Linked DNA regions of Homo sapiens: regions 2 and 3 are each linked to region 1. Evidence: fine-mapped QTL for protein levels in blood plasma. A gene starts in region 1. Each other region holds a variant in brackets. All regions are shown on one strand. Distances are from middle to middle.

Region 1 (10,105 bases):
TCAGTGGGGTGATCGATGGCAGGGCAGGACTGTCCTAGGCCAGCCTGGAGGGGACCATTGTCCTGGCAAATGAGGTTTGGCTTCCCTGCAGGGGCAGCTCCATCTGCTTTTATTGTTTCCGACAGCAGCCTTGGGATTTTCAACCCACCCCAGACCTCACACCTTAAAAACCTGTACAGGGGCTTTGCGGGAGTTCATCAGAGGCCCCACCCATTCAAAGGCCTCCAGCTTCCAGCATTCCCCGCTCACCTGCTGAACTCGAGTCCTACCTCCTGCTAGATTATAGGTACTTGTGGCCCCTCTTCCTCCTCTCCTAGGCAATTTGTGGGTGGGGGAAGCAACCCTCAGCCTCCATATTCCTCAAACTTCATTATCTTGGTACCTAGACCATTTAGCTCTGTGTTTGTTTGGGTATCATCTACTGTTCTAGGTTCTAGGCCCAGAGCTTTATAGGCATTATTTAACTTGACCCTTTGAAGTATATATATATATATATATTTTTTTTTTTGAGACAGAATCTCACTCTGTTGCCCAGGCTGGAGTGCAGTGGTGCAATCTCAGCTCACTGCAGCCTCTGCTCCCTGCAACCTGTGCCTCCTGGGTTCAAGTGATTCTACTACCTCAGCCTCCCAAGTAGCTGGGATTATAGGCGTGCACCACACTTCCCAGCTAATTTTTGTATCTTTTTTTTTTAGTAGAGATAGGGTTGCACCATGTTGGCCAGGCTGGTCTCGAACCCCTGGCCTCAAGTGAGCTAGCTGCCTCGGCCTCCCAAAGTGCTGGGATTATAGGCATAAGCCACTGCACCTGGCCTGAAGTGGATAATATTTTTCAGATGGTAATAGCAACAATGGCTGTGTAGGAACATTAAGACAATGACCAAGGGACTTGCCTAAGATAGCCTAGTAGAGCAAGTGATAGAGCTGGGATTCGAACCCACAGCCATCTGACTCCTCAGACTCATCATCCCTGCTCCATCACATTCCTGGCCGAGACTGCTCCTCATGCTGCCATCCAGTAACCAACACCAGTGCAGCTGCTGTGAGTCCCAGGGAAGGTGGCATGAGCTGGGGCCTGACCCAGAGCCTGGTACACCTGAAAACCATTAAGTCCTGCAATGAGCTCCTTCCAGTTGCTCTGGGTTCTAGCAGGAGCCTCATCCCTCATAACCACCCCTTCAACCCCATCCCATCAAGAGAAGTCTTGGTGTTGGGGCATGGGTGGGTCATGGTGTTGGGGCATGGGGCGTTGTCAAGCTGGAACCTGGGGTGGCAGAGCCTCTACTGGCAAGGATTCAGCCATCCTCCCACAACCTTCTTCTTCTTGGGGACCACTGGCCACAGCGACTCACCCCTGAGAAGGAAGGCTGGAGTAGGGCATGCAGAGAGGGCCAGCGGAGCAAGAGGGAGGCAGCTCCAACCCACTGGGCCAGAACAGGGGTGCTCCTATGACCTGCCCCCCAGGAACATGCTCATGCCTCTGAGGGAAGTTCGGGGAGGCTGGGATGCAAGTCCCTGCTCCATCACATTCCTGGCCGACACACGTGAAGGAACTCCCTCTGGGTCCCACAGCTGCTAAGTGATCAGCTGGGCTTCAAACCCAATCTGCACGGCTGGGGTGAGCCACTTCGTTCTCTGGTCTCAGTTTCTACCCCTATAACAGGCACAGAGACCACCCTCATTTTCCAGAGTGATACAGGGCCTCAGTATCACAGGGGTTTCCGGGCAGCTTGCTCCCCCTCCAACCTCCCCAGCCAGAGGGCCAGCTCCGCCCTGGCCCCACCAGCAGGACCCAGCAGAACTCAGCAAGACACTGGGGCTTGCAGTTTTCAGTTCATTCCTGTGCCTTTGACCAGGAATCACATTCAATATAACAGGTGTGCACAGAGCCCCTACTGCGTGCCAGGCACTGGGACCACAAGCAGAAGGAGACCCAGCCCCCACCCAGGGAGGAGCAGACCCCTCCCAGATAGGGATTATGCCGTGCAGTTCACAAGAGCTAGGGAGGCAAGGGAGTGCCGGGGTGCTTCCCACAGGAGAGGACATCAGACCTCCTTGGTCAGCAAAGACAGAGGGCTGAGATCAAACACAGGGCAGGGCAGAAAGAGCCCTAGCAAAAGCTCAGAGGAGGGCAGACTGTGGAGATGGTCAGTTCTCCATCGTGGCTGCAACCTGGGACGCAGAGGGGACAATGCTGGGAGGCAGGCAGGACAGGGCTAGGCTGGGCTGAGGTCTCTGTAGTTAACTGAGTGGCCACAGTGAGCCACTGAGGACTATGGACTGGGAGGGCGATGAATTGAATAGTGGGGAGGAAGGCAGCGGAGAGAGCAGAGAGGACCTGAGCAAGGTTCCCAAGCCTCTGAGCTGGCTTTGCTGCAGAAGGCAGGGGGTAGAGATGGTATGAAGGGCCGGGTTCACCAAAGTAGGGCCTGTCTGCCAGGTCGGATTTCGAGCAGGAGCCTGGATGGGGGATGTCGTGGGGATATCCAGCCGTTCTTGCCTCTAAAGAGAAAGGTTCCAGTTGCCAGCCCTGGCTGTGGCTGAAATAAGAACTCAGCCAGGGGAGCCTGGAACCTGCCAGCTGGGAGGTTTCCCTCTTCTGAAGTTGCCCTCATTAAGACACTCAGGCCACGTCACTGCCAGACTCCTGGAGTGGTGTGTCACATGTTATGACCACCTAGACAGTGGTCAGGGGGCTTGGGCAAGCACACAGCAGGTCCAGGAGCCAGCAAGACAATCCCCTCAGAGGAAAGGAAGTGGCCTGTGAGCTGGTGCCGCTATTAAAGGCATCAAGCCAAGACTGAGGTTCAGAATTGGGGGTGAGTCACCGGACGCCTTCTGATGGGTGATCAGTTGTTGGCAACACCAGCTCAGCCACACTGATCTCATTTTGAAAAAAAGTGACCCATTGGCCCTGATTGTTTTAGCTGATTTTAGGACAAGCAAAGAGGAGGAGAGAGAGAAAGAGAAGAGTGCTTGCAAGGGTGTGGACGCCTGTATGGGCACGAGGAGGTGAAGGTGACAGGAAGTGTGATGGGGGAAGAGGCTGTGGTGGTGGGGTTACTCTGAAGTGTCTCTAAGCCTTGACTTTGAGATCCATTTCTGTGGAGCCCCCTGTCCCCACCCCATCCCAGGTCTGTAGACTCCCCTCCCCTCCCCTCCCTTCCTCCACAGGGTGTGTGAACCAGCACCAAGCGGCACCCCACAATTTCCACACACATCCCTATAGGTAGGGACTAGCACCATCCCTGTTTTGTGACAGGAACACTGAGGCTCAGAGAGGTGCATTCCTTTGTCCGAGATCACTCCCAGAGCCCCAGTGTACCCGACTCCAGATGCATAGTACTGAACCGGTTCCAGACACCAGTGTGTCACTGGGCTGGGAGGTGGGCAGCGTGGAGGGAGCATATAGGGCAGGGGAGACCACCGGGCGGAGAGGATGGCCCAGGGAGCACCCAGCTGAGGAAAGCAAGAAAGACTTGGCGGGAAACCCCAGCCCTCTCTCATCTCATACCCCGGCCCCGAAGGCGGCTGAGACCCTTGACGAGCGGACGGAGAAAAGCCAAAAGCCGGCGGTGGGGAGCAGGAGGGACAGAGCGGGAGACCACAGGCGAAAGACCAGCGCCGTCGGGGGAGCCAGGCTGAGTACCTTCCTGGGCACAGATGGGACGGCGCGGGGCCACCGGCGGTGCTGGTTCCGGGCGCACTCAGCGACCCCGGCCACACACCCCAGCCTCCTGGGCGGCCTCGAAAGGGGCTGGAGGGCACGCCCGCCAGCTCTGCCCGGGGCTCAGGGAGTCTTCGAAGACTTCTTCCAACGGTGGCGGACTGGGGCCCCCTGCCTGAGAGACCACCCGGAGACTCAGAGACAGAGAGACAAAGGGAGACTGGGTCAGGGAGAGAGAAGGCTAGTGCCGAGGAGAGTAGGTGCGAGCCGGGACCCCAGAGGGCGGCGAGGGCGCGCGCGAGGCCGAGTGTCAGAGCGTGGAAAAGTGGGCGTCCAGCGGTAGGTGGACGGATGGGGAGCCCGGGAGCAGAGCCAGGGTCCGTGGGCAGACGCGGCGAGGAGAGGAGGCGGCGGAAGGACTGGCGGATAGACGGGTCCGAGGGCTGGGAAGGAGGCAGCATCCTCACTTCCAGCCTCGGGACCCCGCGCACCCCGCCCCTGGGCGCGCCAGGTAGCCCACCTTTGTCCGGGCTCGCAGCCAGGTGGGGCGGGAGGGGCGGAGCCAGGGGCGGGCCGAGGCCGTGCCTTACCTGTCCGGCCGGCGGGTAGGGGGAGGAGGGGCTCGGGGCCGAGCGCCCGCGGGAGCCGAGCGCAGCCGAGGGCGAGCCGCGGAACGGGGCCGGCGTGGAGAGGTGCGCGGGCAGCCGGAGGATGTGCCCGGGCTGAGCGGGACTGGAAGGAAGGGGGAGTGGGCGGGCAGGAGGGAAGGGGGCGGGAGCGCGGGGAGGGGACAGAGGAGGGGCGGCGGGTGGCGGGCTCGACTGCCCCCAGCCGAGGGGCAGCCCCGGGGCCGGGCCCGGCGCGCACCCGGCCAGCGCGCCCTCGCCAGCTGCGCTCTGAGTTCTGGGCCAGCTCCCCAGAGGCCTAGGCGCCGCCGCCGCGAGGGCGCGGGGCAGACAAAGGAGGCAGACAAAGGCGGGCGCAGCCCAGCAGCCGTGCGGGCACCGGGCGAGGCAGGCCCACTCCTCCCGGTGCGTAAGAGCCGCCTCGGCGCGGCCCAGGGCGCGTGGGACGGGAGGGGCTCCGGCAGTTGTGGCGCCTCTGGAGCGGCCCCGCGCAGGGCGGGCGACAAAGGGCCGCGGCGGGCGGTCCTCGGTGGACCCCAACAATGGAGCGAGGCTGCGCGCTCAGCTGCGGCCGCGTCTGTCAGGGCAGGGGCCCGGGGCCACAAAAGGATTATTCCGCCTAGACTGTCAAAAGGGACGGAAGAAATGCCCAGGGCGGGGGAGGCGGGACGGGGAACGGCGGGGCCTTTGTAGCCGCAGAAAGTGCGCAGAGTGGGCAGGCGGGGTTCTCCGAGAGGTCGCTCCTGGATGTAGGGGTACAAAGGGTCTTCAAAGTGCTACCAGCTCACCTGGGGCGCTGACGGCGCACCTGTGCCCTCTTTCCCGGTAGGGAAGGGAGAAAGACAACCGCCCCAATACACACACACACAAACACACACACACACACACTCACACGCGGCGCGGCTCTCGCCACGCCCCGTCCAAAGCCGGCCTGAAGCTTCTCAGACCGGCCCAACCCGGACAAAGCCAGCGCTGGGGCCGGCTCATCCATCACCGCGCGGGGCGCCGTGTCCTGACGACCCTGGGAGTCTGAGAATGCTGGGTTATGGGTCCCGTGCCTCCCATAACTCACGACGGGGTCGGTGGGGCCACGGACGCTGCAAAGATCAAAGAGCGATGGGGCCGGACTCCCATATGTGGGAAGCAGCGCTCCCACCTGGCGCCCTGAGCTCGCCAGGTGGCTTCCATTTCGACTGTTTTCTTTCTCCAGCGTGTGGCAAATTATGACTTTGAGGTTTTAGAACACAGTTCTGCCGTCAGGCTAAATGTCTGTGTTCCTCTTCTGATGCCGTCCCCTATGACCTCGAGCAAGTCGCCTGACCTCTGAGCTCATGATTATACCTAAATTTCAGTGTTCTAGGCGTGAATGCAGTGCCCTGTGTAAGGAGATAACGTTTCTAAGGTCTGGCCCATAGGAAATGCTCCTGTAAAATTAGCTGCCATTGTTACCGTGATATTATTAGCTTGGTGGGCACCAGGATGGATTGATGAGAACACTGAACTGTTTATTCACTGAAAGGTTTGAGTCATCCATCCCATAAATACCTATTGAACACCTACTATGTGCCGGCACCGGAGGTACAGTAGTAAACAACATGGACAAGAATCCCTGCCCCCATGGAGCTCAGATTCTAGTGAAGGAGACAGAAGATAAGTGAACAAATAAATATAAATGATGTCAGGTGGTGATTAGTGCTATGAAGAAAAGTAAAGCACATTACAGACAAAGCATGAAGGGACGAGGTGTTGTTTTACATAAAGTTATTAGGAAAGGCCTCTTTGCTGGGGCAGTTCTTTTGGCAAAGAAAAGGAGGTAATGAGCCACGTGGTTGTGGGGAGAAGACTTGCAAGCAGAAGAGCCACTGCAAAGGTCCTGGAGCGGGAGTGTGCTTGGTGTGTTTGGTGGAGAAGAGTCAGTCTGGAACAGAGTGAGGTGACATCAGACAGGGAGCTGGGATAGGACCATGTTGTTACAGGAAAGGGGTCCTGACCCAGACCTCAGGAGAGGGTTCTTGGATCTCGCACAAGAAATAATTCAGGGCGAGTCCATAGAGTAAAAAGTTTATTAAGACAGTAGAGGAATAAAAAGAATGACTACTCCATAGACAGCACAGCACCAAGGGTTGCTGGTTGCCCATTTTTATGGTTATTTCCTGATGATGTGCTAAACAAAGGGTGGATTATTCATGCTTCTCCCCTCCCCCCGCCTTTTGTTTTTCTTTTTGAGAGGGAGTCTTGCTCTCACCCAGGCTGGAGTGCAGTGGCACAATCTCAGCTCACTGCAACCTCCACCTCCCGGGTTCAAGCAATTCTCCTGCCTCAGCCTCCCGAGTAGCTGGGATTACAGGTGCACACCACCATGCCCGCTAACTTTGTGTTTTCAGTAGAGATGGGGTTTCACCATGTTGGCCAGGCCGGTCTTGAACTCCTGACCTCAGGTGATCCACCTGTCTCAGCCTCCCAAAGTGCTGGGATTACAGGCTCGAGCTACAGCACCCAGCCTTTTTTTTTTTTTTTTTTTTTTTGAGACAGAGTCTCACTTTGTTGCCCAGGCTTGTATAGTGGCACAGTCTCGGCTCACTGCAACTTCTGCCTCCCAGGTTCAAGCGATTCATGCCTCAGCCTCCCAGTTAGCTGGGGTTACAGGCACACACCGCCATGCTCAGCTAATTTTTTGTATTTTTAGTAGAGACAGGGTTTCGCCATGTTGCCCAGGCGGGTCTCGAACTCCTGACCCCAGGCAATCTGCCTGCCTTGGCCTCCCAAAGTGCTAGGGTTACAGGGGTAAGCCAGTGTGCCTGGCCTTTGCTTCCCCTTTTTAGACCATATAGGGTAACGTCCTGATGTTGCCATGGCATTTGTAAACTGCCATGGCACTGGTGGGAGTGGAGCAGTGAGGATGACCAGAGGTTGGTCTCGTGGCCATCTTGCTTTTGGTGGGTTTTGACAGGCTTCCTTACTGCAAACTGTTTTATCAGCAAGGTCTTTATGACCTGTATCTTGTGCTGATCTCCTGTCTCATACTGTGACTTAGAATGCCTTAGCCATCTGGGAATATGGCCCAGCAAGTCCCAACCCCATTTGACCCAGCCCCTACTCAAGATGGGGTTGCTCTGGTTCAGACACCTCTAACAATGTGAGCCTGCAAAGGCCACAGGGAGGACTTGAGCTTTTTAGAGGGACCATGAGCAGAGCAGAGACATGATCCGACTTAGGTTTTTAGCAGGTTTGCTGATTGCTTTTTCTTTTTTTTTTTTGAGATGCAGTCTTGCTCTGTTGTCCAGGCTGGAGTGCAGTGGCGCGATCTTGGCTCACTGCAACCTCTGCCTCCCAAGTTCAAGCGATTCGCCTGCCTCAGCTTCCTGAGTAGCTGTGACTACAGGCACCTGCCACCATGCCTGGCTAATTTTTTGTATTTTTAGTAGAGACAGAGTTTCCCCATGTTAGCCAGGATGGTCTCGATATCCTGACCTCAGGTGATTCGCCAGCCTCGGCCTCCCAAAGTTCTGGGATTACAGGCATGAGCCACCGTGCCCGGCCACGTGTGCTGATTCCTAAGGTTGGGAGTAGTCTGCAGTGGGACAAGGGTGAAAGCAAGAGACCAGCTAAGTACTGTGGCAGAGAAGAGATGATGGTCACCTGGGCCTGGGAGAGGGGGCAGTGTGCAGCCAGCATGATTTGCGTCGCCAAGGATAGAGCTGTGGGCCAGTATTCATGAGCCAGGAGAAAAACCTTGGAGTCTCTGGTTCAAATGCTGCTACTGTGGCTGTCCCCTGGCTGGGTGATCTTCCGATGTGCTTGGAGCTGGGGTGACACAATATGAAAAGGTGGATGTTAGGAGAGGCCTGGACTCCTATCCCATCCAGTTTATGATGACTTTAGGGCCTCAGTTTCCTTGTCTGTAAAATGAGGTACTTGAGGGGCCAAAGCAGGCTCCAATATTCATCAACTGATGACTGGATAAGCAGATGTGGTCTATCCATACACGGGAGTATTTTGGTTCTACGAAGGAATGAAGTATCAATATGTGATTCGACCTGGATGAATCTTGAAAACATTATGCTAAGTGGAACAAGCCAGACATAAAAGACCATATTTTGTACAATTACTTTTATATGGAATGTTCCGTATTGGCAAGTCCAGGTCAGGCGCAGTGGCTCATGCCTGTAATCCTAGCACTTTGAGAGGGTGAGGCAGGAGGACCTCTTGAAGCCAGGAGTTGGAGACCAGCCTGGCAACATAGTGAGACCCCTTCTCTACAGAAAATTTTAAAAATTAGTCTGGGCGTGGTGGCTCATGCCTGTCATCCCAACACTTTGGGAGGCCAAGGTAGGTGGGTCACCTGAGGTCAGGAGTTCGAGACCAGCCTGGCCAATATGGCAAAACCTCATGTCTACTAAAAATTTAAAAATTAGCCAAGCGTGATGGAGGTCGCCTGTAGTCCCAGCTACTCGGGAGGCTGAGGCAGGAGAATCGCTTGAATCGGGGAGGCAGAGATTTCATTGAGCCGAGATTGCACCACCGCCCTCCAGCCTGGGTGGCAGAGAGAGACTCCGTCTCAAAAAAGAAATAAATGAAATAAAAATTAGCTGGGTGTGATGGTGCACACCTGTAGCCCCAGCTATTGGGGAGGCTGAGGTGGGAGGATCGCTTGAGCCCAGGAGGTTGAGGCTTCAGTGAGCTGTGATTGCGTCACTGCACTCCAGCCTAGATGACAGAGTGAGACCCTGTCTCCAAAAAATAAAATAAAAAAATAAAAAAATTGGACAATCCATAGAACAGAAAGTAGATTAGTAGTTTTGGAACTGATGTACCTGGCAACACACTTTGGGCATGAACAACCCTTCTCAAGACATCAGGAGTGATGAAAATGTTCCGAATTAGAGAGTAGCGATGTACAACATTGTAACTATACTAAAAATCACTGAATTGTACCCAGGGAAAATGTGAACTTTATGGTTTGTGAATTATATCTCCACAGAGAAGTTTTTTTTTTTTTTTTTTTTTTTTAAAGTGGCAGTTGAGCTGGATCAAAAGTTCTTACCTTGTGGCCCAGGATGGCTTCTGAATATATCTGGACACTCCTGATGTTGTGTAAGGCATTTAGTGTCTCTGGGCCGGGCGCAGTGGCTCAAGCCTGTAATCCCAACACTTTGGCAGGTGGAGGCGGGCACATCACTTGGGGTCAGGAGTTCGAGGCCAGCCTGGCCAACATGGCGAAACCCCGTCTGTACTAAAAGTACAAAAAAATTAGCTAGGCGCGGTGGCTTATGCCAGTAATCCCAGAGCTTTGGGAGGCTGAAGCAGGAACTCTGGAGGCCAAATGTTCAAGACCAGCCTGGGTAACACAGCGAGACCCTGTCTCTATGAAAAAAGAGCAGATGATCAGTAAGGTCCCCCTGACCACTGAGGGGTCAGCAACACTGGGAATCAGTAGAACCCCACGGAGGGAATGGCAGGTGAGGGCTTTGCTCTGGCTGAAGTGTCGGAAGCCATCTCAGGTCAGCAGTGAACCCTGGGATCTGGGACAGCTGTCCAGGTCAGGCCTCACACCAGAAGGCAGATGAGAGCGGAGAGGAGCTGTCAGCAGGAAGTCCTTGTCTTTAGGCATCTTGTTCCGTGATGATGCGTGTCCTCCCTAGGGCACCTTGGGAGTTGCCTGCTGCCTTGGGAAATGGAAATGGAGCTATGGGGATGCCGCTAAGGATGGTTTGGATGGGGTTTTGAAAAGTGTGACAGCTTGTCCAGAGGGTTTGTTCTGGGGGCTTAAATAGTGTATATAGACCTTAATATCATTGTCATAACAGTCATTA
Region 2 (8,000 bases), 58 kb before region 1:
TTTTCCCGCACCCTGGCATCCCCTGCCTCTGGAACACGGCCTCACTCACAGTGGGCTCTGGGGCGCTTGTTGTATGTTAGAAGCTCTCCCTGTTAAGGCCGCTGTGTGGAAGGGGCAGCCACATGGTTGCCTCCTCCACCGTTTCTGTCTGCCTCTGATGGCCCTCCGGCTCCCGACTGCCTGCACAGTCGGGGGGTGGCACAGTGCCTGCAAATCTAAGCCACCCTCTCCCACTCCCTGAGCAGCTCCTAGCCAATGACTGGAAAGCCTGGCACCCTTGCTTTCATCGCAGGCTCTGCTTCTGGGGTACACTCTGAGACAGGAGCTTTCCTCTGTCCTCTCCCGCAAAGAGCCGGTTCAACCTGGGGGTCTGGGACGATGAGGGACTGAGGTGTCTAGATACACTCCCCTGTGCGTGGCCCAGGCTGCATCATCTGCCCCCACTGCCTGGGCCAAGCCCCTGCCCTGGCTTTTCATTCCCTTTGGGAATCTGACACGTTCACGACGCAGGTACACAAGCCTTCCCGGGGCCAGGATGCTGTATACACAAGATAAACGGACTTGGGTCTTAGTCCCATTCCCCTCGGGTCACGCTCCTCCTCCACCCAGGGTGGCTACAGTCATGAACCTGACAGGTGTCCTTCTAGTCCATGCTTTTCTATTTTACCGCACATACACCCAGGAACAACATATGGCATTGCTGTGAGGTCTGAAAATTCATCCCAATGCCATTCTGCAATCTGCTTTGTTCACATTTGCGGGGGGCCAACGTTGGTGGAAATAGGTCTGGTTTAACAGCTGTAACTGCTGCACTGTGCTCCATACGATGAATGGACCGTGGCTTACTGGTCCGTACTCCCTATAATGAATGGACCGTGGCTTACTGGTCCATACTCCCTACAATGAATGGACTGTGGCTTCCTGGTCCATACTCCCTACAATGAATAGACTGTGGCTTCCTGGTCCATACTCCCTACAATGAATAGACTGTGGCTTCCTGGTCCATACTCCCTGTAATGAATGGACCGTGGCTTACTGGTCCGTCTCCCGACAGTGAGGCTGTTTCCAGTTTCTCACAACTGCAGCTGCTCAGCAGCCCTCTGCCCGGAGCACAGCCCCTTCCCCACAGCAGCCTTCCTCCCTGACCCAGAGGCCCATGTCCTCTTCTTTCGGGGCTCTTGCCTCTGTCTGTAATCCTCCAGGTGGGAAGACTCCTAGGTTGAGAGCAGGCTCCCAAGGTCACCACTGCAGCCCCAAGCCCGCTCGGCACCAGGCAGGTACTGAGCCTCTTTTGATTGACAGATGGACGCAAGAGAATAATGGGAGTTGTGCACTAGGCCTTGACCCTGTGCCAGGGACAAGCCAGGATGGCCTGGGAAAGCCCTGGCACTTGGTGCCCAGGGGGCAGAAGAGCAAGCTGTGAATAGCTAGACCTGTCCGTGGGGTGGGCCGAGGCCCTGGGGAACTTCTGGACGTGTCAGCCCAAGTCAGCTGTGACCAGACACAGGGGCTACCAGGAAGAGGTCGCCCCTGCCTCCTAACCTAGCATCGTCACTGGCCTGAGGAGCAGGTCCACTGCTAACAAGTTCACCATCACTTAGGGAGCCCTCCTCACGCCAGGCACTTCACACCTGGAGCAGGCACCAACCCTTTCTAGAAGACACTGAAGGCATGCAGCTAGTAAGTGGCAGAGCAGGATTCCAAAGAGTGCCTGGGTCATCTGGTTCAGAGAAACGGATGCCCACGCACCACACCCACCAGTGTCTCTCTCTCCTGTGGCCTCTGCTAGGCCAGAGCCAGGCTCAAGCCCAGCTCAGCCAACGCACATGCCTGTTTCCTCCTGCCATGACAGAATGGGGCAGCACAGCACAGGCTCCACCTGGGAACTGGCAGGAGACATCTTCCCAGGAACAAGGCCAGGCCCCAGCCCAGCCAGGAGATTGAAGGTGGTTCAAAACACAGCCCATCTACAGAATTCCCCAAACTTTAATGCTGTGCTCTGAAAAGGGAGGCTGGAGGTTGTGGTGGGACACAGTGTTGCTGACACCTCTGGCCTCCAGCCCTGCATCCCTAGGCACCATGTGACCAGGCAGTGAGAAGGACGGGGCCTCACTCCCATGCCAGACTGCTCCTCGGGCTGAGCAGGACCTGAAGCTCTCAGGGCTTCCACCAAAGCCCAGCAAACTTGGGGGAGGCCTGAGGGGGCATCAGCAGTCCTTAAAGGCCTGAGCTTGCAACACTCAGGCAGGACTCGGCTGAGGGCCTCTGTGGTGCCACCATGGGGTAGGAGGTAAAGAGAGACCCTGGTTCCAGCCTGGGAACCAGTGGGTGCCCTGAAGGGAGGGGAGGCCTCAGGGAGTTCGGGACAGGAGTGTGCATGGTACTGGGCGGCCCATGGGGGCTCCTGGCCTCTTGGTTCAGGCAATCCCTGAGCTGGGGACACATTCCATCTTAGGTCCAAGAGACGGAGGTCAGGAGCATCCCTAGAACGACCTCCCAGGCACGAGGAAGGCCCGGGGCAGGGCCGGGCGCAGCGTGGCTGGCTTCAGTACCCTCGGGCATCTTGACTCCTGCCCTCTGGGACTGCAAAGGGATCTGCGGGCGCCTCTGCTGAGTCAATCGTCTGGTAGGCACTACGGTCCTGAGAAGACCCAAGGAAACCTAGGTGACAGGGGACATGGTGGGAAAGAAAAATGAAGGGTGAGAACTCGGGATGTTCAGCTGAGTCCAACCCAAGATCCACCCCCGCCACCCTCGGGCTGGGCATCCTGACACCATGCACAGAGACAGAGGCAGCAGCCCCAGGCCCTAAACCTTTAGCGTGTATTATTCATTCAATCCTGCCGTATCCCTGTGCGACGGGTATTTTTATTGTCCCCACTTTACAGATGAGGAGACTGTGGGTCAAAGGGATGAAGTGACTTGCCCGAGATCACACAGCTCAAAGCTGATGATGCTGGGACCCACGCCTAGGCAGCCGAGTCCAAAGCCAGGCTCCTGGCCCCTGTGCCATGGGCTTCCCCAGGCAGCACGTGCTTAGGAACCTGGGCAGAGGGACATCAGCCCCGGGCCCACGCACTCCTCTCCAGCTCCCCTCCCAGGTACAAGGACACCACATTACCATATCCAGATGGCCTCGGAGGCTGGGGCTGGGTCCAAGGCAGGGCCGTAGGGCTCCGAGTACGCCACATGCCTCACTCCCATCCCCTACTCTGTACATTCATCCCGGGACCCTGAACAAGTCCCAAAGGATGTGGGCCTCAGTTTCCTCATCTGTCCAATGGGAGAAACATTCTGGCACCCCTCACCTGGGGGCAGGCCCAGGCAGTGCTGAGGTCAGCCACTGTGGGCAGCCCCAGGCCATTCCCACCCTCAACCAGCTGGTGGCAGTCACAGGCCACGTGGGGCATCTCATCTCAGGAGTGAAAGGCAGAAGGCCACACCCTACCACCTCCCTCCACTCCTCTCAAAGAGAGAGAGAAAGGAAGAGAGAGAGAGGTGTCAGAGAGCAGGCAAATGGCTCGGCCACCAGGAGAAGGAGTACAGGAGTTCAGAGAGGGCGTGGGAGAGGGCAGGTGTAAGGCTGGGTGAGTGGGGAGGGGCCGGTGGGCAGGGAAAGTGCCCCCTGTTCAGGGCTGTCTTCACTGAGGCTCCCACAGCCTACACTGGCACGGGCTCTGCCCTGGCCACCTAGCAGTCTCTGCAGCAGGAGAGGGAAGACCCCATGTGGCAGGAAATGGGGTTCCAGTGATGGGCCCCGGTGAGAACAGAGAGGAGACCTGTAGGTGCCCGTGGCCCTCAGGATGGAGACAGCCCAGGGCTGCCCCTGGGAACTAAATGGTACCCCCAGCTGTGCCTGTGTTCTGGGCTGAGAGAAGGGCCCAGCCTCAGCTTCACAGCAGAAGAAGGTCACGGCAGACCAGGACAACCAGGGGACCCCTGGGCTCCTGCAGCAGAGACTAGGAGCTTGGACCTGTCCAGCCTAGTACAGAGCGCCCATGCCACGCTCTCCCTGCACCTTGAGCCCTGGCCCCATGGGGCAAGGCTGGCTCACTGAGGGAGAGGCTGGAGGCCAGGCAAGGGAGAGAAGGGAGCGGTGAGGAGCTGGCTGGAGGTGGTGGCCTCACCAGTGTGGACCAGGAGCTCACCCCCGCGCTCCCGGTACATGTGGTAGACGAAGCAGCAGGAGAGCGGCTTGAGCAGCAAGCTGAGGATGGCCATGCCCACGCCAAAGCGGCCCGTGTCCGTGAGGCTGACCCGCGGGTAGAAGATGCTGATGTGCACGATGTCCAGGAAGATGGTGGCCAGCAAGCCACCCAGAAACTGCAAGACACACCACACTGATGAGCACAACACCCCCACCACGCTCCGTGGCTCCCCCGCCACACACCGGATGGGAAGCCGTTTCATGCCCTGCTGTGTCCTTGGGGCTTGCGGGAAAATGGATCAAGCAAGCAGGCAGGGCCCCGCTGGGGAGCCGCTGGCTGAGACTGCAGTCTGGGGGCAGGGATGCCGGGGGCCCAGGTCTCGGTTCCACCAGAGCCTCCCTCCCCACCCATTTCCCGTCATCTCCAAGGCCATGATGGGCACAAGACTTGGCTCTAGAACCTCCATAGAGGAAGGTTCCTTGGAGTTCACCCAGTCCTTCTCCAACACAAAGAAAATCTCTTCTCAGTCATCCTGAGGCCCTGGCCTCGGCTTGAAGAGCCCGTGCGGGAGTGCTCACTGCCCCACGGGGCTCCGTGGGTGCTGAGAAGCTCCCCCTGTGGGAGGTTTCGGTGGGGCAGGGTCACCTCTACTTCCTAAAGTAGTGAAATGCCCTCTTGGCCGGGTCTCCCAGCCATATCCCCTCCCCTAAAAGAGAGCCGCAGAGGGAGGTTACAGGGGATGTTCCACTGCTCTTGCGAAGTGGCTAATCCGAGGCACTGGTGGGACCCACCCCATGGCTTTCCTCAGGGAGATAATGGCAGACTTGGGGTTCTCTAAGCCAGACAAGAAGAGCAGCAGGCTGGGCTCCTGAACACAGGCATGGGCCGGAGCCCAGGAGGCTGATGAACAGGCTTTAGACAATGGGAAGTGGTGGCCCAAGGAAGAGGGGGAAGATTGGGATGGGACGGGGTAGCAGAGCCAGGCTATGTCTTGCCCTGTGCTGCGGCTCCCCGCCTTGCCGCCTCTCCCCCACCCTGGCTCACCATGCTTATGGCGTCGATGGAGTCCCGCTGAGCCACAGCCCACACGCCCAAGGCCAGGATGGTGAAGTTGGCCCAGGCATAGGAGCCTGAGAATACAATGCAGCCCCTGTAGGAAGAGGTAGCTCAGTCCCGTCAGGAGGCCACCACCCCGCAGGTCACCTCCCTCCTGCTCCGGCGTCTCAGGGCCTCCTCCCAGAACATGCCATAGTCTTCGAGGCCACCCGGCTGTGTGCCAGCAAATCCCATGGGCTCCGCCTCCCACCCAGACCCTGGATCTGGCTGTGTCCCTGTAGATCCAAAGCACCTCCCTCTCCTGGCAGATGACAGCCGCAGCCACCCTGTGCCAGCGTCCTGACTGCCACTCTGTTCTCTAAACAGCAACCGGTAACGTAGTCAGATGCTGTCACTCCTCTGCTAAAAATCCTCCAACAGTTTTCTGTCCCATTTGGAATAAAATGCAGACTCTTCACCAGGGCCTAAGGGGCCTGTGGGATCCCGGACACAGCCTCGCCCTACTGACCTCCCAGCCACTGCCCTGTGCGGCGGGCGCCCTCTACCCTGACACCTGGCCCTCCTTTTGTCATTCACCCTGAGACTCGAATGTTCACCCTGAGACTCCTTCCCTTGCCCACCGGTGCTAAGTACAAGTTCGTCACTTTCCTAACACAAGGCCCGCCCTATTCTATTTTTAGGGTACTGATACTGACATTGTTGACTTACTTGTCAATCCAATCAAAATCATAGTGAACACCGATCACTTGCTAGTACCTAGCATGGTTCTGTTTTAAATTAACTCATTCATGTACATTTATGTTAATAACCATAGGAAGGAAGTATTATTGTTACCCTCACTTTAGAGATGAGGAAACTGAGACACAATGAGGTTAAGTAACTCGCCCAAGGTCACACAGTTGCTGAGCAGTGGGGCTGGGATTTGGAGTCTGGCTGGAGAGGCCATGCTCTTGCTCACCCTGCTGTGCTGCAAGGAAGACTCAGGGGGACAGGGACTGAGTCTACCTCATTTATTACCAAACCCACTGGGCCTTGCCTTCCCCTGCATGCAGCGGGCGCTTCCTAGATTTATAGGACATTCACTAAAGTGTAACATGCAGAAGACATGTGCAAGGCAGGTGTGGAGTGCCATTCGGTTCAATAGGTCTTTGAATAAACCATCTTATCTTTTGCTTTTAAGAAAGCAGGTGCCTGGGTCCCAGCCCAGAATCACCAACTCAGAATCTTGGGGAAGTGTGACTAAGAAATCTGTATTTTGGCCCTGCTTCTCAAGGTCGTGAATCATGATGGTTACAGTTCACATTACTCACAGCTGTTGCCCTGTGCGCTGCACTTCGAAGTTTGCAAAGTGCACAGGTGAGCTCAATGGTTTCCAGTCTTGGTTTGGCAGAGAAATGTCTCCAGAAGCTCAACAGATTAAAAGAGATGGTAAAGGTGAAAATCAAGCTGCAGTGCTGAGGCCTCACTGTGGGGCAGGCCCTGGGGAGCTCTGATGAGCACTTCCACGTCTCCCTCCCAGCTCCTGCAGGGTGTGCAATCCTTATGCCTATTGTACAGACGGAAATCAAGACCCGGAGAGGCAGAGCTGTCTGGCCCAAAGTGACCTGGTTAAAACACGGCAGAACCAGGACCTGACCCGGCTGACACAGACCCTGAGACCGCAGGAGACACACAAGATACCCACAGAGTCACTTACCAGGTTGTCAGCAGCCAGTGACCTAGGAGAATCACCTGTGGCACAACAAGGGGGAGAGAAGAGGTCTGTGAACATGACCACCACAGGGGCAGGAAAGCGTCGGGTGCAGAAAACACAGGACGCCCCTGCGCCTGGCACCTCTGAGGGCCTCAGTAATGTCTGTTGAAAAGGCACACCAGCAACTGCAGGTGGCCCAGGAGTGAAGGAGGAGGAAGAAAGCAGGCCAGGCCAGGGAGGGGCCGCTTCATGCCTTCACCCCTCCCATGGGGCAGCTGACACCCACACCCCTTCCAAGCGTCAGAGGCGTATGAACCAGAGCAATTCCATCTTGAATAGGAGCTGGGTAAAATAAGGCTGAAACCTAGTGGGCTGCATTCCCAGATGGTTAAGGCATTCTAAGTCACAGGATGAGACAGGAGGTCAGCACAAGGTACAGGTCATAAAGACCTTGCTGACAAAACGGGTTACAGTAAAGAAGCCGGCTAAAACCCACCCAAATCAAGATGGCCAC[G/C]AGAGTAACCTCTGGTTGTCCTCACTGCTACACTCCCACCAGCACTATGACAGTTTACAAATGCCATGGCAACGTCAGAAAGTTACCCTATATTGTCTAAAAAGGGGAGGCATGAATAATCCACCCCTTGGTTAGCATACTATCAAGAAATAACTATAAAAATGGGCAACCAGCCTGGGCGCGGTGGATCACACCTGTAATCCCAGCATTTTGGGAGGCCGAGGTGGGTGGATCACCTGAGGTCAGGAGTTCAGGACCAGCCTGGCCAACATGGTGAAACCCTGTCTCTACTAAAAATACAAAAATTAGCCGGGCATGGTGGTGTGTGCCTGTAATCCCAGCTACTCAGGAGGCTGAGACAGGAGAATTGCTTGAACCTGGGAGGTGGAGGTTGCAGGGAGCCGAGATTGTGCCATTGCACTCCAGCCTGGGCGACGAGAGAAACTCCATCTCAAAAATAAGTAAATTAATTAATTAATTAATTTTTTTAAAAAGGGCAACCAGCAGCCCTCAGGGATGCTCTGCCTATGGAGTAGCCATTCTTTTATTCCTTTACTTTCTTAATAAACTTGCTTTCACTTTACTCTAT
Region 3 (10,105 bases), 16 kb before region 1:
ATTTGACAGCATTCTCCGTTCCAAGTGGTGTTTCCAGGTTAGGCTCCATGCTCCCCCTCTCCCCACATCCCACCTTTGGACATCTGAAGATCAGACAGGGCTCACTGGGGCCCCCACCTCAACAGATGGTGCGGGAGGGCAGGGCACCCAGGCATGGAAGATAGTGGGGTAGGTGGGCATACCTTTCTTCTTTGCAGAGGGCCAACCATCAGGTTTTAAGTCTTCATAATCGGTCCAGTCGAACAAGGCCATGTCCAGCGTGGGCATCACCTCCCCGTCAGACCTGGGCTGTGCCTGCTGGAGACCGTGGAGAAGGGGGATGTTGGAACCTTCAAATCCATGGAAGCAGGAGTGTGGAGTCCCAAGGTCAGAGGACAAAAAAGAGGCTTCTCAGAGGCCACCTTATCCTCTGCTGGGCAGCCTGGAGTCTCAGCCCAAGGACATAAAGATGGCTGCCGGAGGCTCCTGTTCCAGTGGCCACTAGGTAATTTCCTTCCTGTGCAGCCATTACTCAAGAAGGACCATGCACACACACACAGGTGAGTTACCTACCAGGCCCTCTGAGGAGGGGCAGAGACCACCTGCAGGCTGGGAAGGCAACCTTGCTTGCCCAGGGTCTTTAAGCCCACGAGGAGGGTGTTGGAAGTAGCCCAGCCACTCACTGGACTTTCCCATCCCTTCCTCTCTCTGCAGAGGTTACCAGCAATCCGTGGCACCATTGAGGCCACAACCAGGGCTCAGTCCCACTCACAGCCTGGGCCAGTGGCCCCAGGAATGCAGAGGGCTAGAGGTCCTCAGCAATAGCTGGATCTACACACGGGCATGTGCGAGCACTAGGGCATGGGCAGGAACCGCACCTTCTAGGCTGGCCTGCAGGGGGCCTTGGATGATAAGACGGATAACCATGTATTCCTGGGAAATGGTCTGCAGCTTTTATCACAATCTCAAGGGGGTGCAAGACCCCAAAAAAGGATAAGAAAGATCTGCTGCTAAAAAAGCTTTATTTCTTTTGTATTTTTGTAGAGACGGGGTTTCACCATGTTGGCCAGGCTGGTCTCGAACTCCTGACCTCAGGTGATCTATTCGCATCGGTCTCCCAAAGTGCTGGGATTACAGGCGTGAGCCACCCACTGCACCTGGCCTATTTCTTTTTTATGTATTTTTTATACATATATATTATTGATCCTTTTAAATAATTTTAGTTTGAAAACCTTTTTTTTTTTTTTGAGATGGAGTCTCACTCTGTCGCCCAGGCTGGAGTGCAGTGGCGTGATCTTGGCTCACTGCAAGCTCTGCCTCCCGGGTTCAAGCAATTCTCTGCTTCAGCCGCCCAAGTAGCTGGAACTACATGTGCCTGCCACTATGCCCGGCTATTTTTTTTTTTTTTTTGTATTTTTAGTAGAGATGGGGTTTCACCATGTTAGCCAGGATGGTCTCGATTTCCTGACCTTGTGATCTGCCCGCCTTGGCCTCCCAAAGTGCTGGGATTACAGGCATGAGCCACCGCGCCCGGCCTGAAAACCTTTAAAAGCCACAGAAGAGGTGCAAGAACGATGCGGTCAGCTCCTATATACCCCTCTTCCAGAATCACCAGTGGGTAGTGTTTTTGCCACATTTGCCGCTTACTTTCTCTCCACATTTTTTTTTTCCCTTGAGACAGGGTCTCACTCTGTCGCCCAGGCTGGAGTGCAGTGGTGCAATCATGGCTCACTGCAGCCCTGACCTCCTGGGTTCAAGCGATCCTCCTGCCTCAGCCTCCCAAGTAGCTGGTACTACAGGCACATGCCCTCATGCCTGTCTAATTTTTTAAAAAAGTTTTGTAGACACAGGGTCTCACTATGTTGCCCAGGATAATCTCAAACTCCTGGGCTCAAGTGACCCTCGTGCCTTGGCCTTCTAAGGTGTTAGAATTACAGGCTTGAGCCAACGTGCCCGCCCCACATTTCTTTTTTTTTTTTTTTTTGAGACAAAGTCTCACACTGTCACCCGGGCTGGTGTGCAGTGGGGCGATCTTGACACGCTACAGCCTCCGCCTCCCAAGTTCAAGCGATTCTCCTGCCTCAGCCTCCCGAGTAGCTGGGACTACAGGCGTGCGCCACCACACTCAGCTAATTTTTGTATTTTTAGTAGAGATGGGGTTTCACTATGTTGGCCAGGCTGGTCTCGAACTCCTGACCTCGTGATCTGCCCACCTTGGCCTCCCTAAGTGCTGGGATTACAGGCATGAGCCACCGCGCCCAGCCCACATATCTTTTTTAAAGATCTGATGCAGATGGGTCCAAGTGTTAGCTAATGCTTATTAATTCTGGGTCTTGACGACACAGTTTTAAAAATCACCATTATTATGCTTCATGCTCCTCTGTACACAGAAAGCTCCTCCCCAGGCCTTGCTGCTCTCCATGCAGACACCAGCATGCTGAGCTACCGCTTGCCTCCTTGGCTGTCCCCAGAGTGGGCCCCCAGGAGCACTTTGCCCTGGACAGTGGCAGACCCTTGTCAGGATGGGGCACCCACCAGGGCTGGAGCTAGACTGGATGGGCAGCAGGAGATCTGGTTTCAATCTAAGTAAGCTCTGTGGCCTCCTGCCCCCGTGCCTCAGTCTCCCTACATGTATTAAGAGGGCTTTCCATGACATGGGCTCAAGGACCCTTCCAGATCCGAGGCTGTTTGGGGACCCCTTACCTGGGGCCGCAGGGAGGTGACGGGCAGGATCAGGGACTCTTCTGTGGCAGGTGCTGCCTCAAAGGTGGTGAGAAAGAACATGGTGGGCGCCAGGCTGGTGGAGGATTCCTCCATGGCTGCATCCAGCACCTGGGCTTCGGAGAGCTCTGCCTTCTTCATCAGGGAGCTGGGACCTCGGACCAAGGCTCGGCCTGAGACACAGGGTGGGGAGCACGGGGGCTATATCTGCTTGCCACCTCGTGGCAGTCTACAGTAGAACCCACGTTTTATGCTGCAAACTAGGAGGCAGCAGGCACTGTGTGACAAGCCCTTGGTTCAGCCCCCATTCCTGCTTCCTACCCTTCTTGGGAGGTTGGGGGATGGGAACTCGGAGGAAAATGTCTTGGAAGAACTTGCAGTGTCGCTGGGGAGACAGTCCAAGGATTCTCCCTGTAAAGCAACATTCCAGCAAGTCCAAGTCCAGATTGGCTGGGCGCAGCCAGATATGTAAGTATAACAAATAGGAACTAGTAGGATTAACCATGGAAGGCTTCCTGGAGGAGGTGAAGTTTGAGTAGGGAGAAATGTCATGAGGCTGAGAATCATTGCAGTGGCCTTTGAGGAAGCTGGGAGGTGGGAATCACTGCTTATCACACACAAGTGAGTGCATCCTGTGTGGTGACAATTAGTCATCACCCCATTAATGGAGCACCTGCTGTGTGCTGGGTCCCAGAGGAGCTGTGTCACAAGTGTTATTTCGTCTAACTACTGCAAGAGCTCTGGGAAGTGGGTGCTCCTTCAGTCTCATCTACAGGGAAGGAAACTGAAGCACAGAGAGGTTAGGTGACTCACGCAAGGATGCACAGCTCATGAGTAGCAGGGTCTGGATTCAGCTCCAGCAGGGCTGGAGTGCAGGGGCTCAATCTTGGCTCACTGCAACCTCTGCCTCCAGGGTTCAAGTGATTCTCCCACCTCAGCCTCCTGAGTAACTGGGATTACAGGCATGCGCCACCACACCTGGCTAATTTTTGTATTTTTGATAGAGATGGGGTTTCTCCATATTGCCCAGGTTGGTCTCCAACTCCTGATCTCAAGTGATCTGCCTGCCCAGCCTCCCAAAGTGCTGGGATTACAGGTGTGAGCCACCACGCCCAGCCTGGCCTGAGGTTTCACAGCCAGTCATTAGCAGAGCAGGGCCTAGCCCGCAAACCTTCTCCGTTCCCCACCTCCTCCTCACCATATCAACTCTCCCAGGAGGCCTGGCTGCAGCCCTGGAGCTGGCGGAGCCGGAGCCCAGCAGGACGGGTCCACACCCCACGCGTGCCCTCTAGCTGTCCTCAAAGGTCCCAGCATCCTCCCCTGAAAGCTGACACAGGTAACTCCAGGAGTGGGAGGCTGAAAGTCGAAGCCGGGGGACCCTGACTGACCTCTGCCCTCTTGGGGGGTTCTCAGGCCTCACAGGGAAGCCAGCCTCAGCTGTTTGCACGAGAAGGGGTGTTGAAGCTCCATTGCCTTCCTGCCAAAGAACCCTGCTGTCACCACTGCATTTGTGGCACTCGGCATGTCCCTAGAGGCAGTCGGGTCACATGGAGAGCTTAGAAGCCAAGTTCCCTGGCTTAGGGCCAGGCAAGGCTGGGAGGAGCCACCTGACTGGAGCTGAGGGGACATGTCTACTCCGAGACTGAATGGGCACGGGGAGGGGGAAGCCTGGGCCAGCAGGGGGCTAGCTAGCTCCCAGCGGATGTGGGGGAAACGTTAAGGAAGGTGGGAAGGGCTAGGGGAGCACTGAGACAAACAGGGCAGAGGCAGGAGCGGTAGGCAAGCGATGCCTCTCCTGGAGTCACCTGTGTCCAGGCTGGAGGACACTGAGTTGGCCTCAGCAGGTGGCTGAGATTAACCAGAACAATGACTGCTCATGGCCCTGCCAGCTGAGCTCCAAGCGCCCCACTAACCAAGTCTCTGCAACGACACTGAGGGTAGATGGGATGGGACCAGTCTCCTTGCTTTACAGAGGGGAAAACCGAGGCACAGAAAGAGAACTTGCCCAGGGCCACACCCTAGTGGTGGAGGCAGGACCTGATCTCAGGCAGACCTGGCTTCAGAGTCTAGGCTCTTAGCTCCTACCGGATGCGTCAGAGTCGAGTAAGAAATGTGCTTGGAGGGCGCTGAACTGTTCCATTTCTACTCAGAACTTAAAGTAGGAGAAATTTAGGTCAGATACAAGGTAGAACTTCCTGATTCAGGAGGATGATCTGTTGATAAGACAGATTATTATTATTATTTTTTGAGACGGAGTCTCGCTCTGTCACCCAGGCTGGAGTGCAGTGGCGCCATCTCAGCTCACTGCAAGCTCCGCCTCCTGGGTTCACACCATTCTCCTGCCTCAGCCTTCCAAGTAGCTGGGACTACAGGCGCCCACCATCGCGCCCGGCTAATTTTTTGTATTTTTAGTAGAGACGGGGTTTCACCGTGGTCTCGATCTCCTGATCTCATGATCCGCCCGCCTC[G/A]GCCTCCCAAAGTGCTGGGATTACAAGCGTGAGCCACGGCACCGGGCCGCGATAAGACAGATTGTATTGCAACACATCCCTCTCCTCTTCCCATGCCCCAACCCCAGGCCTCTCCCAGCCTCCTCCCCTTACCAGGTCCCTCTGGCTTCAGTGAGACCCCTCCTCTCCTCTGGACCTCATGCCCCTGACCCTTGCCTGCATCCTCTCCTGCTCCCCTCAGTCCATGGCAGGAATCACCCCCATCCCCACCCCTCGCAGCCCTCCAGCTACCTTGGTGCAGCCTCAACCTGTCCCTGCGTCTCTTGTGCTCCCTGCTGCGTTTCCTGGTCCTCTCCCAACCTGGAGGTCGGTTCTCCTTCTCGGGGTAGGGCAATGCCAGTCCCAGGAGCAGGTCCTTGTCCTGCAGCAGGCCTGCAGGACTCTGCTCAGGCAGCAGCCCCTCAGCCTCTGGCAGCCTGGAGGCCTGCCTGGTGGCGGTGACCACAGCCCCATCCTGGGCCTGGCTGGGCAGGCCTGGGCCCCACTCCTTCTTGCCCGGGCCCCGCCGGCGGTGGTGGCTGGCCTGAGGCGTCCACAGCGCTGGGCCTGGGAGGTCAATGTGATTCTCAGGGAGGTTCCGGGCAGGGGTCCCAGGTGCAAGGGCGCCTGCCAGGCTCAGCTCCAGGGGCAGCAGGAGGACGAGGAACAGCATGGGAGCGGTGTGGATGGCAGGCCCAGCCATTGGCTCCTCCCTGCAAGAAGAGCAACACCATGAATGCGCAGCCCCAGGCCTCTCTCTGCTGCCCCTCACTCAAATGATTAAAGCCCAGTTTTTCTCAACAGCCATAGAGGGACATTTTGCTCCCAGTGACATTTGGCAATGCCCGAAGACATATTTTAGTTGTCAAAACTGGGGAGTGCTACTGGCAGGTAGAGGTTGGAGCCCGTGGATGCTGCTAAACGCCCGACAATGCACAGGACAGCCCCCGAAACCAAGAATCATCCGGCCCAGAAAAACAACAGTACCGAGGCTGAGAACCCCCGGCTTAAATCATTTCAGCAGCATTCAAGTTCCAGATTAGTCCAGAATTCCTTTCTCTGCACAAACCTCTGCCCCTTACCAAGTCCCCTAGAGGGAACCGAGTCCCTCAGAGCTCAGAAATATGCCTCTGGCCCCTGAGACTTGACTCGGAGCCTAATTCCATACAAATGGAATAATAGCGTTTGAGCGCACGCTGTAGGCAGGACCCACGTTAAGTGCTTTGTGTGAATTCATGTCACTTCGCCCTTTCAAGAGCTCTCTGAAATGGCTCCTGTTATTTTCCCCATTTTTCTGAAGTGGCAATGAAGGCTCAGAGAGGTTAAGTCACACCTAGTAAGTGGCACTGTGTCATTCCTGTCCCTGAGCCCTGAACCCCGTGTGGCTGTCCCAGGATGGCCCAGCTCTGCCTTTCTCTTCTCCTCTCATGATGAGCTCTGAGGCCCCAGAATGTTCTGACACTGTCCCTTCCCCTGGGGGAGGGGCTTTGGGAACAGCTTTGCAGACTTGGCTCTGACCCCTGCAGGGTAGACTGAGCCAACCCGACCTAGCCTCAGGATATCCCCCTCAGGGGACCCAGTGCCCTCCCTCCACACTGGAGGGAGAAGCTGCAGCTCAGGGGATGGTGGGGGCGTCTGTCAGACTCTGGAGACCTCCTGCCCCCGTGCACCACCCGCAGCTGCTCCCCCACGCACCCCTCTCCATTGCACCAACCTCACTGTATCCTGGAGCTAGGCACTAGGTTAGCCAGGCTAATTGAATTTTTATGGCCTCCCGAGTATTCCACTAGGCTGGCAAGGGTGCTTACGCCACCGTTTCTTTGTGATTTGTGGCCATATAATTGTCCCGGGCTGAGAAAAGGTTGGTGGGCCTGTGATGTTTCCCTGCTTCCCGGCGCCTCTCCCTGCGGCCCCCATGCTGGCTGGCCCACCCCAGTGTCACCTTAGCCCCGACCCCGAGGGAGGGTGGTAGGGCAGGGAAACTGCTGTGCCCTCGAAGCTCTGACCACGCACTCGTGGAGGGGAGGGGGGAAACACCTTCTCCAGCCTCGCAGGGTCTGTGGTGGCTTCACCCAGTTCTGCCTCCATCCCAGCCTGGCATGTCCTGGTCCCCTGGGATCCTGGGCCCTGGCCTCCACTGTCCACAGCTCAGCTCTTCCTAGAACTGTGGATGGAGACAAGGAGGTGGCCGTCACTTTCCATCTTGTCCCCTATCCCGGGGATCTGGCTGAAGATACTAGGTGAGCCTTGGTGACGTGCGTGGGACCCTGGGACAGGCTTGTTGTGACAACCCTGTCTCCCATCACACCTGCATCCATTCCTAAGGCCACAGACCCTGCACCACAGTCCCTGCTACTGTCCTGGTCACGTCACCAGCAACGGAAGGCTCTGTCCCACTGGCCTTGCCTCCAGCCCTTCCCTAACAAGTGCTCTTGAGGCCAGAGCTCAGCAAGCGGGACCTGTGTCCCTGGTTCCTGAGGCAGCCCAGGGGGAGGAGGGGCCCATTTTAAAGGCCTGTCACTCAAGCATTGTTCGGCGCAGAGGGAACCTCAATCCTGCTTCGGGGCCAGTGGAGCGGGGCTGCTCTCTGGGCTGGCATTTAGCCTGACCACTGCCAGACTTCACCCCCTGCTCTCCTTGTGACTGGAAAGGCCAAGCGCATATGGGATCCCGTCCATGTCCGAGACCCAGCCCTGCCTTTCTGTCCTGCAGGGACATGACAGCCTGGGAGAAGCCCGAAGAGCGTCCTAGGGACAGGGAAACCTCGGGACGTTGGCCAATGAAAGGAATCACCACCTCCTCCTTGTCCTGGGGGTTGAGGGGAATGAGGAAGAAAACCCAGACAGTGCGGGCAAGAGAGCAGAGGAGGCTCAGTAGAGAGGTGGGCAGCTTCTCAGCTAGTCTGCTGTCCCTGGGGACACACAAGGCTGTCAGTAAACCTCAGAGCCGCCTCTGAGCCTGGTGAGCAGCCTAGGTGCTGGTCTTGGAGGACAGCTCCTTCCCTGCAGAGCCAGGAGATGAACTCCCACTCCTGCCCCACTCCAACACCCCGAAGCAGCATGATCCCACCCAGACTGCCACCTTCCCAAGCTCCGTTGCCACGACCCTACTTGGCTGTGGGTCCATTCACAGTACCCATCCTGCTTCAGGGCCAGTGGAACCCCAGTCTGAATGCCATCTTTGTTCCCTCCCACCCTTCAAGAACCACATATCACCCACGCAGCCAGCCTGGGACAGAGGAAGTGGGATTTCAGTGCACAGTGCCAGAGCACCCATGGGGGTGCATCCAAGGGGGCTCCATCCTGTCCCCAGACCCAGCATATACTGGTGGTATGGCTACTCGGGTTGTGACCCTTATCTGCTCAAAACTGTCTATGGCTCCCTATTGCCTTCCCATGCAACCACAGACTCCTTACTTTGGCACTGAAGACCTTGTGTAATGTGGCCCCAACCAAGCTTTGCAGCTCCAACTTCTACTTTCTCCCCTTCACAGGCAACAGAGACTGCTCCCTGGGCCCCAAACACACCCCTGCTTTCTGGCTCTCTGTTCTCACTTTGCCTGTCCCCTCTGCATGGAACCTCTCCCCCTCTCCCTCATCTCTCTCCGTCCACGTCCTGCCCATCCTTTGGGACTCAACCCAAATGTCCCTTCCTCCAGGAAGCCTTGTTCAGTCCCCTGACTCCATGTGCTCTCCGCTTGGTGCTCCCACATGCCTTTGTCCTGCTCTTGAAGACCTCGTGTGTCATTTTGTGCTGGGACCGTCAGGTTTTTTAGAGCCCCTGGCTAGACTGGAAGCTCATAAAGGACTCTGCACATTCCCTTCTGCTCTGCGGCCCCTCCAGGGCCCTGCACATAATAGGCGCTGGTAGCCATGGATCAGAACAGAAGTGGATTGAGCACAATCCAATTTATGTATCAGGCCGGGCACAGTTGCTCATGCCTGTAATCCCAGCACTTTGGGAGGCCAAGGTGGGAGGATCACCTGAGGTCAGGAGTTCGAGGCCAGCCTGGCCAGCATGGTGAAGCCCCGCCTCTACTAAAAATACAAAAATTAGACGTGCATGATGGCATGCGCCTGTAATCCCAACTACTCAGGAGGCTGAGGCAGGAGAATTGCTTGAAACTTGGAGGCGGAAGTTGCAGTGAGCCAAGATTGTGCCTCTGCACTCCAACCTGGGCGACAGAGAGAGACTCAAAAGAAAAAAAAAAAAAAGAATTCATACCTCGGCAGAAGATCATAAATAAATCCCCAGGATGTGTGAGTGTGTGTGTGTGAGCATCTGGCATGTATGTGTGAGCATGACGTGTGTGTGGAGCATGTGTGAGCATGTGTGTGTGTGTACTATGATCATGTGTAAGCGTGAATATGTATGGGTGTGTAGGTGTGTAGTGAGTGTGTGGGAGTGTTAGCATGTGTGTGTGTGGAGCATGTGTGAGTGCATGTGTGTGTATACTATGATCATGTGAGAGCATGAATATGTGTGGGTGTGTAGGTATGTATGTGTGTTGTGAGTGTGTAGGAGTGTTAGCATGTGTGTGTGAACATGTGTGAGCGTGTGTGTGATGATGTGTAAGCGTGAATGTGTGGGTGTGTAGGTGTGTGTGTTGTCAGTGTATGTGTGGGAGTGTTAGCATGTGCGTGAGCGTGTGTGTGTGCTGTGAGCATGTGAGTGTGAATATGTATGGGTATGGGTGTGTATGTGCATGTGTGTGTGAGAGCGTGTATGTGTTGTGAGCATATGTATGGGTGTGTGTGAGCATGTGTGTATGTGTGAGCATGTGTGTTGTCAGCATGTGTGAGCGTGAATGTGTGTGGGCGTGTACGTATGAGTGTGAGCATGTGTGTGTGAACTCGCGTGTGTGAGAGCATGTGTGTTGTGAGCATGTGTGAGCGTATGTGTGTGCACAAGCATGTTTG

Alleles and levels. Alleles are on the strand shown, and positions count from the first base shown. The strength of an association depends on the size of the effect and on how common the allele is. Not every link is listed here.
With allele G in place of C in region 2, the plasma level of the protein whose gene starts at base 4,400 in region 1 is higher (moderate association).

What was found. A credible set is the group of variants that fine-mapping cannot tell apart. PIP is the posterior inclusion probability: the model's chance that the variant is causal. The UK Biobank Pharma Proteomics Project read protein levels with antibody pairs (Olink). The fine-mapping took linkage between variants from a reference panel, not from the people measured, so its PIPs are less certain.
Region 2: its variant is the best candidate, but not a certain one, in a credible set for the plasma level of the DRAXIN protein (UK Biobank, PIP 0.73).
Region 3: its variant is the best candidate, but not a certain one, in a credible set for the plasma level of the DRAXIN protein (UK Biobank, PIP 0.76).

Annotation. Positions count from the first base shown.
Region 1 is chr1:11,686,005-11,696,109 of GRCh38, reverse strand. It overlaps DRAXIN (dorsal inhibitory axon guidance protein), which reads right to left and starts at 4,400. Exons shown (of 7, transcript NM_198545.4): 1 at 4,257-4,400. It also overlaps a transcript of MAD2L2 not described here. RefSeq lists enhancers at 5,085-5,592, 5,593-6,102.
Region 2 is chr1:11,744,738-11,752,737 of GRCh38, reverse strand. AGTRAP (angiotensin II receptor associated protein) reads right to left here. Exons shown (of 5, transcript NM_020350.5): 2 at 6,901-6,935; 3 at 5,193-5,298; 4 at 4,128-4,323; 5 at 1,969-2,661. The coding sequence ends at 2,546. Among named protein-coding and RNA genes, the nearest start is that of AGTRAP, 13 kb to the right of the region's middle. RefSeq lists enhancers at 3,200-3,876, 3,877-4,553. The variant G/C (reference allele first, on the strand shown) is at 7,412.
Region 3 is chr1:11,702,043-11,712,147 of GRCh38, reverse strand. It overlaps DRAXIN (dorsal inhibitory axon guidance protein), which reads right to left. Exons shown (of 7, transcript NM_198545.4): 2 at 5,439-5,899; 3 at 2,683-2,873; 4 at 183-297. The coding sequence starts at 5,889. Among named protein-coding and RNA genes, the nearest start is that of DRAXIN, 15 kb to the right of the region's middle. RefSeq lists an enhancer at 7,241-7,868. The variant G/A (reference allele first, on the strand shown) is at 5,169.